Regions from separate parts of the Homo sapiens genome. Here regions 1 and 2 are each linked to region 3. The links come from fine-mapping of genetic effects on gene expression. A gene starts in region 3. Each other region holds a variant in brackets. All regions are shown on one strand. Distances are from middle to middle.

What was found. PIP is the estimated chance that this variant, and not a neighbour inherited with it, causes the effect.
Region 1: its variant is the best candidate, but not a certain one, in a credible set for the expression of INPP4A in whole blood (TOPMed, PIP 0.76).
Region 2: its variant is the best candidate, but not a certain one, in a credible set for the expression of INPP4A in whole blood (INTERVAL, PIP 0.70).

The regions. Positions count from the first base shown.
Region 1 is chr2:98,546,425-98,550,424 of GRCh38, reverse strand. It overlaps INPP4A (inositol polyphosphate-4-phosphatase type I A), which reads right to left. Exons shown (of 25, transcript NM_001134225.2): 13 at 3,731-3,839. Among named protein-coding and RNA genes, the nearest start is that of COA5, 60 kb to the left of the region's middle. RefSeq lists an enhancer at 1,261-1,350. The variant T/C (reference allele first, on the strand shown) is at 2,280.
Region 2 is chr2:98,464,017-98,468,356 of GRCh38, reverse strand. The region is part of intron 1 of INPP4A (inositol polyphosphate-4-phosphatase type I A); the gene reads right to left. Among named protein-coding and RNA genes, the nearest start is that of INPP4A, 21 kb to the right of the region's middle. RefSeq lists enhancers at 1,939-2,503, 2,602-2,911, 2,922-3,061, 4,312-4,340. The variant G/A (reference allele first, on the strand shown) is at 2,461.
Region 3 is chr2:98,442,282-98,446,621 of GRCh38, reverse strand. INPP4A (inositol polyphosphate-4-phosphatase type I A) reads right to left here and starts at 1,764. Exons shown (of 25, transcript NM_001134225.2): 1 at 1,537-1,764. RefSeq lists a silencer at 1,295-1,934.

The DNA.
Region 1 (4,000 bases), 100 kb before region 3:
AACAGTCACTCTGGACATTAGAAGAGCAGGATCACCTCTGCAGAGGCTGAGCCCCCATGGAGCTGGGTTCTGCAAGGGTAGGAGGATTGGGAGGCTGGGTCCTCTCTGCCTGGGATTTAGCCCCTCACAGTCTCCAGGCAGGGACACTCCTTCTGCCTGTAACCCTCCCCGCTCCATCCCCTCCCTGCTTCAGGGACAGTCTTGTATATGGGGAGCAGGGGGGAGACGGCAAGGGGTGACCAGGCCCAGATTGGGCTATGGAGGGTCCTCAGAGGGAACCCAGGAACGCAGAAAGTTCCCCAGGAACAAGGTTCAACCCAAAACACCTGGGTTGGGATTTACCAAGGAGCAGGCCTTGGGGGCAGCTCCTTGGTAAAGCCAAAGGCCTCTCCCCTCCCATTCCTCTTCCTCTGCCCCGCTAGACTCAACCCCTAAGTACTTTACTTGTCCCGTTATGGGAAAGATCAGGCCTTGAAAGAGTCCCCAGTAGAGAAAAGGCAGGGAGGGGAGGCTGAGAGGCCACTTCCACAGAAGTAGCATGGGTCTGCTCCATTAAGGAGGCAGGAGCAGCAGCAACCGTCCCTAGATGCCCTCCTCCCTCCCTTGTACCTAAAGTACCCCCAGGGAAAAGGACCCCCAGGGGGAAGTTGAGAGGCCTCAGCCTGGACATCGGGGAATGTCCTCAGTGCTTCCTCCTGTCAGATGCCACCAGCAGAGCCTGACACCTCCAGCAGGGCCCAGCCATAGCCCCTGAGCCCCATGGGTCACAGGCTCTGAGGCAGCAGCATTTCTTGAGGGGCTGCAGGTGCCTCTGAATGAAGCACCACTGCAGAGCCTCTGTTATGAGCCTGGGGAAGCAGTAGAGAAGCCCAGGCAGCAGACACCGTGGTTTCTAACTGTCATCTAATTATCTGGTGGAAAAAGTCACTCAGTTGTATTAAATCTTGGTTTGTACCCACCCCCAGGGGTAAAACTGACCTTGGTAACAGTGTTATTAAAATCAGCATAAATTAATAAGCATCATGAAGATGTAGGCTGGCTTCATTTGTATAAGAGGTAATAGTGAAGTGAAAACTGAAAAGCCACAAGACTCCTGTATAAGAAGACAGGAGTTCCCAGCTGCACCCAGGGGCTGACATGAGAACCCAGCACCCAGGGGCTTCCTGGGTCGGGCCCTTCCTCTTCCTGGGAGAAACAGAACTAGGTCCTTTCTCAGAGTGAGTACGACAACACCCAGCTGCCAGGTTTTAAAGGTAAAACAGCAGACTGAAGATTGGCTATTCATTATTAAAGAACATTGCAGTTGGAAGGGAGGACTGTTTATGAGGTGTATAACTAGGAACCATGGCAGCACCGCAGGGGAAGCCCACAGGAGGAGGTGTGGGGATGGCACAAGCTTTCTCTGCATGAGGACGAGACCCAAACAGACACTCTCTCCACAGACAGAAAACTCACCAACACTCCTCAAAACTGCTAAAGAAAAGAACCAAAATGAAATATTAGCAGTTTGTTAGCAAATACCAAATGCAAAAACAAAAAATTAAAAAGCCAACTTATTTTTTGTCAAAATACTTAAAATTATTTGTTGAGGTCCCAACTACAGGGATGACTACAATCATGAGCCCAATGTGCTTATTCCTTAGAGCAGCGTCACTCCCTGTGCTCAAGCCCCAGGGAGACATCCCACCTCAGGCCAAGTTACCTCCGCATTTAAAGGAAAGTTCAAATCATGAATACCATATCTATAAGTGGCTTGATGGCATTAGTGAGAAATTAAATAGAAACTTATATATTTGAAAAATACTAAGAGGTATTTTGAGAAATAAATTCTAAAGTTAACATGCAGAGTTATCAGGAATCAACACCCCAAGCCTCCTGGGACAAAGACCCCCAGAAGGCCCCCTTCTTGACTGGCCAGAGTTACTATGGGTTCTCCTTCAGGGCCCCACCCCATCTCAAGCTGCACGCTCACACTCTCCACAGGGCAACATGCAATGGAGCGACAGACACGCTTTCTGGCTGGCTGTGCAGAGCTGCGGTGGCACAGGAAGCTGCGTCTTCTTCCTATTTCCCAAAGGGACCTGGAGTCAGCAAATCCTAAGACAGGTCTGGTTACCTGGTTTGTCTTAGGGAAGCACCCCTGGGAATGAATCAAAGTCAAGTAGGTTGTCTGGGGGCCTGAATTCCCCTTCCCTGTTTCTCCTCCCTCCGGGACTCACCGGGCTCTGGGCCCACCCAGGCAGCCTGTGCACGTATCTGAATGGTGACTTCTCACAGGG[T/C]ACGCTCTTCCGTTCCCTGCTCAGCCTTGCCCATGATCAGTGACGCCCCTAGCTGCCTCCCTGACCCCCTCAGCCACTGATCTGACCTTTCACCTCTTTCAGTTTTCTCAGATCACGTCCTGACTCCCAGCCATGGCAGCACAGTCAGGTGCCAACCACCAGCTCCATGGCACATGCCAGAGCTCTTCACCTGACCATCCATGGGATTCTTGTGACGCTCCCTGGGCCTTTGCTCACCTTCCCTCACGCTGTTCCATGCTTGCTTGCTGAGTCTGACCCTCCCCAGCCCACATGCTGCAGAGGCTGTCGACGGATGCTTCTGCTTGTTCCTTCCCACCTCAAACATCTCTCTGCAGCCCCACCTCTTCTCCTGGCCCTTCTGATGAACACCTGCTCTTGCCTCTTTCCATCCTGTGAGAACCCGGCTCTAACACTGTTTTCCTCTCATTCACCTTACCTCATCCACTTCTGTCTTTCCTATCAGCCCAAACACATGCTAAGTCATAATTATTCTCCCTAAACCAAACACCTCATGCTACTTCCTCTACTTTGTGGTCACAGTCCAAGGATCTTACTGGTCATCTACACTCATCACCCCCACTTCCTGAGCCACTGAAATCTTCACAGGTGATGTTCTGGAAGATCATCAATGCCTCCTGCACATCTAACACAACAGCTTGGGTTTATTTCTGGCTCTCTCCCTCCCACCCCTGGGGGCTGGGTGGATGCCCTGCTCCATGCACCCCAGCATCCTCAGCATGCTTGTTTCAGGCCCTGTTCATGCCAAATGGTGCTTGCTGACTTGTCTACTCCCAGGCAAGGCCCTGAGCTCCTGGAACCAGGCCTAGATCTGCTGGGGGCTGTAACTCTGGTCACAGAGCAGGCTGGCAGCAAGGCCAGTCCTCTTAGCTCTCCGCCCCCAGCACTGTGCACCTGGCCACATTTCACCATGTGCAATGCTTCTGCCATGTCTTTGTCTGAAATGCCCTTCACCACCCTCCCTACCTGGAAATTTCCTGCTCAGGACAGTAGCTCTGTACAGCCCCCTGAATGTTTCAAAAACTGGGAATGTTTACCACTGCTGTCCTCTAGGAAACAACATGCTCCAGGCTCGATGCCTATGGTGCTCAACTGACTGGCCAGGGACTCTAAAGGATGCCAAGCCAGCAGAGTCTACATAGGGCGGTTGCCTGGAGCACCACTTCTGAGGTGGATCACAATCTGCTCCTCATTTTGCAGGACAGGACCATTGATCCAGTGCCCTCATCACCCACCCAGCTCAGTCACACATAAACAGAGCAGCACAGGCTCCATAAGGCAGATCCTCCTGCCACGCAAAAGCAGATCAGATGGCTGGGTGTTTTTGCGGTCATATTTTGATTTTATTTTAAACTGAGAAAAGAAGCATCAGAAAGCTGTACAAGGACCACAAACCCTCTCTGGCTACTTACTGTTTCTTGGTCTCTTCAAATTTGTGCAGCTTTTTGCGGAGACCTCCTGACTTAAAACCTTGGCAGTGTGCTGCTGGCGCCCCAATGGTGACGATGTCGTAGTTCTGATCTGAATGACAGAAAGCTCTCCTCCATTACTCTGGGCTCAGGCCTGTGGACAAGCCAGCTATAGGGATATGCACACAAGTCTGGGGTCCTGACCCTCCAGCCCACTGCTGTACAGCCTTTGGTTCCCCTGATCCCACAGCCCTGGCTGCCCAAGGGTCTGCT
Region 2 (4,340 bases), 22 kb before region 3:
CCCTGAGGTGGGAGGATCACTTAAGTCCAGGAGTTCAAGGCTGCAATGAGCTATGATTACATGGCTGTACTCCAGACTAGACAACAGAGCAAGACCCTGTCTCAATCAATCAATCAATCAATAAAATTGTTTTCTTTACTGAGACATTAAAATTGGTATATCTAAGGATCTCACTTTCTTACTGTAAAACCTCAAAGTTTTACTATTAGTCCACTAAGATTTACTCAGGGTTATTACAAATTCAATTAGTTCATGGTCTCACTGAGTTGGAAAGTATGCTAAGCACTATCATTCATAAATAATTGTAAAACTTAGTTGTGGAACTCGACAAAGATGAGGCTGAACTTACGGCCTGTTCAACCAACAGGCTGTACTCTAAAAGCCCATTTATAAGTTATCTGGAACCCAGAGAACATTTCATTTCATGTAAAATTACCACTAAGTTGGTACTTAAGTTCCCAAGAAATAAATAACTATTAGACAGTTAATAACTAATAGATAACTATTAAATAGAGAACTAGATAATAATTAGATAATAGATAATTATCTATAACTAATAGATAACTATTCAACTCATTTGTCCTTTTCTAATTTAAAATCAGAAAAACGTTATTATGGTGCAAGAAAATCAAGTGTGTGTTGTGTGTGCATATACAGACAAGAAAATCAAATGCAAGTGTATGTGTGGGATGTATATGCAAAAACTCTAACTTAAGGAAAAGAAGCTTCACATCAAGAACACAGAAGTTAAATCCATGGAGGCTGAGAAGATAATTTCCACTCAGTTCCAAGGGCAAAGGACACTGATGATGCTAGGTTCACTGGACCTGTTGTCCCCACATGTGGACGGTGTCGCTAACATTGCTGACAGCTTCACAGTCTTAACAGCAACATAATAGGGGAAAGGAGAAAGCGTTTAAACAGATGTAGAGACCAAGTTAACAGTGTGATGAATCATCAGCAGATGAGGGGGACGGAGGGGCAAGTGTGGCACAGGCACAAGAGGACAATGTTTGTCCCCTCCAAACTCCACACTGAAATTTAATCCCGAATGTCAGAAGTGGGGCCTAATGGGAAGTATTTGGGTCATGGGGGCAGATCCCTCATGTATACATTAATGCCCTCCCCCAACCACCCCCCGCTTTGAGGGTGCGTGAGTTCTCACTCCGTTGGTTCCCACAAGAGCTGGCTGTGAAAAGAGCCTGGGACACCACCACCACCACCCGCTCCCTTCCTTCCTCTCTCGCCATGTGAGCTCAGCACACGACAGCTCCCCTTCACCTTCCACCACGAGTAGAAGCAGCCTGAGGCCTCACCAGATGCAGATGTCCAGTCTTGAACCTTCCAGCCATCAGAATTGTGAGCCAAGTAAACCTCTTTTCTTTAAAAACTACCCAGCCTCAGGTATTCTTTTATAGCAGCACAAAACAGACTAAGAGAACATCCAAGAGGAAAAGAAAAAGGCCCTTTCCCGGCTACTCTAAGAAACTCGGCATTCAGAAGCCTGGTGTAGTTATTCAGGGACTGCCCAAAAAATACATAAGTGTGAGACAAGCATTCATAAAGAAAACGAGATGGAAATAAAACTCTGGGTCCCCACCAGAAAGAAGACAGATAGACATCATCACCTGTGAGTGCCCTCCTCTCTCTCCTGTGAGTTTGGCGATGGGTCTATCCCCTCCAAGGCCTACCTGGCATAACCATAAGTGAGGGTTTTATGCACAGAAAGACCTCTGAAACCTCTGCCACCAACCAGCTGGGTGACAACTTCTCTGAGCCGCAATTCTCTCACGGGTAAAATGGGATGACAGACACTTATCATTCAAGGTGTCCAGAGGATTAAATGAAGTGCTGCATGCTGAGGCACAGCACAGCAACGACGCTTAGTGAAATTCCAAAAATGCCGGTGACTCATTGTAATCTGTGATAGGGAATGTCTGTCACCCCCTTGAGCCAACAGGTGCTGGTGCACAGTGAGTGCTCTACAGGGTTAGCTTAAAAAACATAACAAGGCCGGGCACGGTGGCTCACGCCTGTAATCCCAGCACTTTGGAAGGCCAAGGCGGGCAGATTGCTTGAGGTCAAGAGTTCAAGACCAACCTGGCCAACATGGTGAAACCCCATCTCTATTAAAAATACAAAAATTAGCTGTGCATGGTGGCGTACGCCTGTAGTCCCAGCTACTCAAGAGGCTGAGGCAGGAGAATCGCTTGAATCCAGGAGACAGAGGTTGCAGTGAGCAGAGATCACGCCACTGCATTCCAGCCTGGGCAACAGAGTGAGACTCCATCTCAAAAAAACAAAAAAACAAAAAACAAAACAAAACAAAAAACGTAACAAGAAGGTCCCTTCCTAAGCTACTGGGGGGAGGGCTGGAGTGAGACTTGTGGCAGATGGAGCAGAGACTGAGCAAGGTGGGCAGGGCCAGCCTGGGCACACAGCCAGAGAGGAAGGGGGAGG[G/A]CGCTAGAGTGAGACCCAAGCCACCGTCTGCTCAAGTACTGCGCCGAAACCAGGGTGGAGCCGGGAGGAAAAACCACAGGCCCTCACAGGAACAGGGGCTCAGCCAGAGAGTTGAAAAACTCTTTTTTCAAACCCATGTAACAACATAGTAAAATGACAGGGGATTATCTGTTCACCAAGTGAGTGCCCAGCAACATGACAAAATGACCCCAGAGTCAGCTACCCCAGAGTCTGGGAGAGGAAAGGACCATGGCCACCCCTAGGCCTCCCCAAGCCTCAGCTTCCTCATTAAGCCCACTGTATGTGGGACAGTATGGTCCTCATCAGGCTGCTGTGAGGTATGGCAGGTCAAATAATGCCCCCTGCAAAAGAGGTTCACGTTCAAATCCTTGGAACCTATTAATGTTACCTTATACAGCAAAGGATTTGCAGACTCAATTAAGTTTCGAATCTTGAGATGAGATTATCCTAGATTACACTGGTAGGCCCCAAATGCCATCACAAATGTCCTTATATGAAGGCAGGAGATTTCGGAGAGAAGAGAGGGCCGTGTGACAGAAGCAGAGAGAAGCGGAGTCACGGAGAGAAGATGTTACCCTGCTGGTGTGAAGATGAGGAAGGGGCCGGCAGCCGAGGCAAGCCAGCAGCCACAGAATGGATTCCGCCCTAAGCTACTGGAGGGAACATGGCCTTGCCCACAGCTTGATTCAGCCCAGTGATTCTGGAGGCCAGAACAGTGAGAGAATAAGTTCCTTTCGCTTTAAGCCACCGAGTTTGTTACAGCAACCACAGGAAGCTAATACAAGGGATTAAAAGGGAAGTGGATACAAAGCAATCAGCACGCTATCTGGCACGTGGTAGGAACTCGAGAATCCCCATTAGTGAAGGACAGTTCCTGACATCCTCCCTGGGCCACCAACCCATCCTCAAAAGCTGTGTGAAAACCTACAACCTTGTACTGCAATAACGAGCTCTGTACTCTGCTCACAAAAGCTCCTTCGTGTGTATCGTCTCAGTTGATTCTGTCCTAAAAAGGAGTTTCCAAGGTTGTCCAAGGACTCTCGGCTTGTCACATATAAATACAACACTGCCACAGGCCTTGTCTTCAACATTCAGTTCAATTAGTTAAAATATTTCACAGGATGGCCTCTGCTGATATCTCATGGAGCAGACCCTCCTGATCTCAGGCATCATGAGCTGTGATCAGGGCCATCTTACCTTGCAGAAACACAGCACAAGTACTTCTCTCAGCCACAGGCCTTGCAACTGTCAACAGAGAAGCTGGTGCCGAGTTCTGACATGGGAACTGAGAACTCTGCCCCTGTCAGGGCAGACATGGCAGAAGAAGAGGCTGGGCAGGCAAAAAAAGACACTGGCTAGCACTTGACCTTCCAAACTGCTTTTCAGCTTGACTCATGCAAAGAGGTTTATCTCTCCCCTAAACCCCCTGCTTTTTGTTTCTTCAGCCCTTGCTCTGTGCACCCCCACTCTCGATTTTCCTCTTTGAGGAGCGAGTCCCAAGTGTCGAAACCCACCATGTGCAATAATTCCACTTCCTCCGTCGTGCTCGGCCTCCATCATGCAGACCCTGGGGCCTCAGCTTCCCCTGGGTTGCTGCGAGGATGTGGCCCCATGAATCTGACGGCTCTCCTGCCCTCCCCTCTGCCCCATTTTGTTCGAGACTCAGGGCTGTGCTGTCCCAACCTTCCCCAGCCTGTGCAAGATTTGAAGACTGTCCCCTTCATCAAGCCACAGCAGCCCTCAGCCACAAAGAGCTCAGGGTGGAGCCTCAAAACCTCAAGAGTATCTTAAAGAAAAAATGAAGAAAAAGAAGAAGCCTATTCACTTCCTAAAAACAGCCATCTGCAGGCCCTCTGAGA
Region 3 (4,340 bases):
TCTTTCTCTTTGAATTTGTCCACATCCATTTCTTTAAGCCTTTTCTTCAAGCCAAACTCTACCAAGCAGCTCTGGCTTCACAGGCGTGTTTACTAGACATCACAGGGAATGAGGCACCGAGAGGCCCGTTCACATGCAACGCCACCCCTGGGACAGACAGCATCACGGCCTCCTGGCACCACTCCTGCAACAGACCAACCACACTGCCCTTCTTACATGGGCCCCATCATTCATCTTTCTTCAAAGAAAACAGTACATTAGCAGTCGACACTTCAGCAAAGAACCCCCAAAACAAATGCCCTAGCCTAGATCCAAAAACAAAATTTCCGTTAAAGAAAGTGTGTTTTTCAACCAAAGAAAAATTAGGCTCAATTCTAGGACAACCTATAGCAAGCAATTCTACGTGCACTGGCCAACGCCAACAGCAGCTAGATTCCAAAACAAACTCAGCAAAAAAGGCTCTGCTCTCACCTTTTAGAGATAAGAACCAGAGTCAGCAAGCGGCAGAACCATGATTCACACCGAAGTCAACCCACTCTGTCCTCAACCCCACTGGCTTCCCCATGGTCCACACAACCCACTGTGAACAGATGGACCAGTCAGAATTTCTCTGCAACACCCAAATCGCCACCCCACCCCCATTCCCTTGGTTTAAATGCCCTGAGGGGCAGGCGACAAATCAAATTCCACTCTTAGGCAGGTTCCCAACACAAGACACATTCAGTGGCAAAGCAAAAGAGAAGATGGGCTCTACCACATATAGGTCTTTCTTACCCAGAGGAACATTTTCATGGTCTGTCATTACGGATGAACTCGGGGCAGGAAGAACCCATCATTATGTAATGTCAGAGGGCAGGCGACAGGGGAAGGGAAGCGAGACCATCAACATTCCCTTCCTTCGCCCACAAAGACACAAATTTACCTCTGACATTTTGAACGTCTGTCTTCTGGGGCCTACCCATTCCTGGCTGGCTTTTCAAGAGACAGCCACAGATCCCTGCACATTTCTCAGGCCTCAATTAATTGACTAGCAAAGCCAGAGAGAAATAAAATATAGAAAGCAAAGATGCTAGAAATGTTGTCGGGGTCTAAAGGCAGGCAGAAAATGGAAGAGTTTCGAGGATGGAGACCAGATTTCCCACACGGAGATGCATGTTTACTTTCACCCGGTTATGTTTCCACCCCAAACACGGCAAGGCCTCCAGCTTCAGGAGCCCGTAGACCCAGCCCTGGAGCCGCATCGGGCAGGCACCGCGTCTGCGTCCCGCGGCCACGCGCCCGCTCGGCACCCGGCTCCCTGCTGGGGCGGCCGCGTCTTCACGGGGCTGGGGGTCGGCCGGGCTCGGATTGTTCTCAAAAGACGCCACCGCAGGTGGACCACTGGCACCGTTAGGCAGTGCAATTTCCATGAAAACCGCGGGCGCCGTCCACATCCGCCCCAGCGGGGACCTGGACGCGCCCCCGCGCCCGCTGTCCGTCCCCGGCCCCGGCCCCCGCGGCGGCCGCGTCGCCTCCTGCCCGGCCCGGCCCACCTACCTGGCGCTCCCCGGCCCCCGGCGCCAGCCGCCCCGCTGTCCCGCCGGGCTGCGCGCCAGAGCCCCGCAGCAGCAGCAGCGCCGCCGCCTGGCTGTGAAGTCGCGGGCTGCGGGCCCGGCCTCAGGTGCTGGTCCTCCTGCCCCGGCCCACGGAGCCCGACCCGGCGGCAAACCAGCAGCGAACCCTCCACGCGCGCCGCAGCCCTAGCCAGCCGCCGCCGCTCTAGACGCCGGGCGCAGCCCCGCCCTGGCCCCGCCCCCTTGTCGCGCATGCGCGCTGAGGGCCCGGCCCGCGCCCTGCGACCCCCGCCCCACTACCAGCCCGAGCTGGGTCCGCCCTCTGAGACAGTAGGGCCGGTGACCGAGCTGCTCGCGCCAATTCCTACTGCTAGGTTCCCACAAGATCCCACCCTATCCTGTGACTGCTTCACCTGCAAGGAGTTCTTGAACTTCTGGACTTGACTGAGCGATGGCATCTTCACCCTGTCATCCACTGAGGCATCTGAGGCCCTGACGGATCCCCAAGGGAAAGTTTCCTGGAGGAGCCGCGACCCGGGGATGCGCCCCCAACCTTTTGCCCTCCGGACAAGAGCACTTCCTGAAGTGCAGACGTACTCACTCCCCAGGAGATGTTTAGGAAACTGAACATTCCAACCAGACAAGCAAAAAATTAAAATCTTAATTCTTTGAAAATACAGACTTGCAAAAAAAAGAAAATTGCTAACCTCTAAGTGTATGTCCTTCCGGACCTGTTCTGGCCTGTGTGCATAAGTGTGCACTAACAGACTTGCAACAGCATCAGTCCTTACACTTTGCCCCAAGTTTCTATTTTTCCATAGACAAAAACAATAATCAGAAGTTTTGGAAGAAAATTTTCACTTTGACTTTAAAACAGCATTTCTCCTTGAGCAAGGGCAAATACTGGACTGAATGTATCCTTATCTTTGAGTCTTCACATTTTATCCGAAAAAAAAATTCTTAAAATGATTTTAATTCAATAAACCAGAATACTTCTCAGGCAGAGCATTTAAACATATAATTTGCTTCAAAAACAAAAGAGATTAACCAGTTAGGAATGGAAATTAAGAATTCTCTGAACTCATTTAGAATTATGTCTGATCCTCCTCATGTCACCAAAATACAGACAATAGTCTGGAATAAAAATAAACAAATATAAAACGAGTTTTTTGGGGAGCCTGAGGCAGGAGCATCGATTGAGCAGAGGAATTTGAGGCTGCAGTGTCAGCCTGGGAGACAGAGCAACACCCTGTATCTCTAAAAAAAAAAAAAAAAAAAAGAAAAGAAAAGAAAAGAAAAAAGAAAAAGAAAATGTCCTAGTTTTAAATTTTTATTTCTTTACTTTTTATTTTATTTCTCTTCTGAAAAGTAACTTAGTAATAAAACAGTTCCCTCTTATTATTTCTCCAGCTAAATGGAAAGAAATATTGACAGAACCTTGACTCCACAGTACAAAGTTAAAGCCAAGAAAATCAAATTTGTAGAAATGCAAAAATATTTTTGCATTTTTTTTAATTACTGTGACCAATTAGTTTGCTTGGAACAGCCCCAGTTTACATCTTTTTGCAGCAAAATTATTAATAGGGCCCTCTTTCACTCTCAAATGTATTCCTGTTCAAACAATAAATTTTATGGCCATGCTGTTTATTTATTTATTTTTGGGATGGAGTTTCGCTCTTTTTGCCTAGGCTGGAATGCAATGGCGCGATCTCGGCTCACCGCAACCTCTGCCTCCCAGGTTCAAGCAATTCTCCTGCCTCAGCCTCCCAAGTAGCTGGGATTACAGGCATGTGCCACCACCCTGGCTAAATTTGTATTTTTAGTAGAGACAGGGTTTCTCCATGTTGGTCAGGCTGGTCTTGAACTCCTGACCTCAGGTGATCCACCCGCCTCGGCCTCCCAAGGTGCTGGAATTACAGGCGTGAGCCACCACGCCTGGCAGTCATAATCAAGCTAAGAAAGTTGTTAAACACTAACTTTTAAAAAAGAAAAAAAAATTAAATTTATAAAGATTTAAAAATAGATATCAGTCTAATTTCAGTATTCATTCATTTAGTACAGTAACACTGAATGAGGATCAGCTTCCAATAACATCTGTCACTTGACTGTTATGTAATTCTGGATAATCTTCAAAGATCAATCACATTTTCAGTGTGGCAAAGAATGAGGCCCTAATTCCACCGTAGAATGAAAATTATCAAGAGAAAAGGGAGCCATGTGTTAGTTAATACTGTAAAAGGAAAATAAAATCTCGGGACCCCCAAACTCACTACTCCAAAGGGAAAAGCTAAGCTTGGGAACTGAATCATGCAAAAAAAACTGCCTTCCTTTTGTTCCTAAAGAGATAGCTGCAAGATAGAAGGCCACATATCTCCCCAGGTGGCCTCCCTCACCCTGACAATGTAAATTAACAGCTTATCGTCACAGGAATGGGACAAAGACAAGCGGAGGAATCATCCTTCCACCCACCCCAAGACAAATGCATATTTGACCTCTTCCTCTACTCTCTGTTTACTTACCTTATGTAAAAATGCATAATTCACTGTTCTTCTTTCCCCTCCTGCCCACTTTTTCCTCTTTAAGTATTGAAGTCCCCAAAACCCTCTTGGGAAAAAGCATAGGCCACAGATCCTACTGATCCTACTGTAGTTTGTGCCTCATTTTCCCAGTTGCATCCTCAACCTTGGCAAAATAAACCTCTAAATTGACAGATCTGTCTCAGACACCTTTTGGTTTACAATATCATGCTATATCTTCCCTAAGCATCACGATGTGATAGCTAAGTAT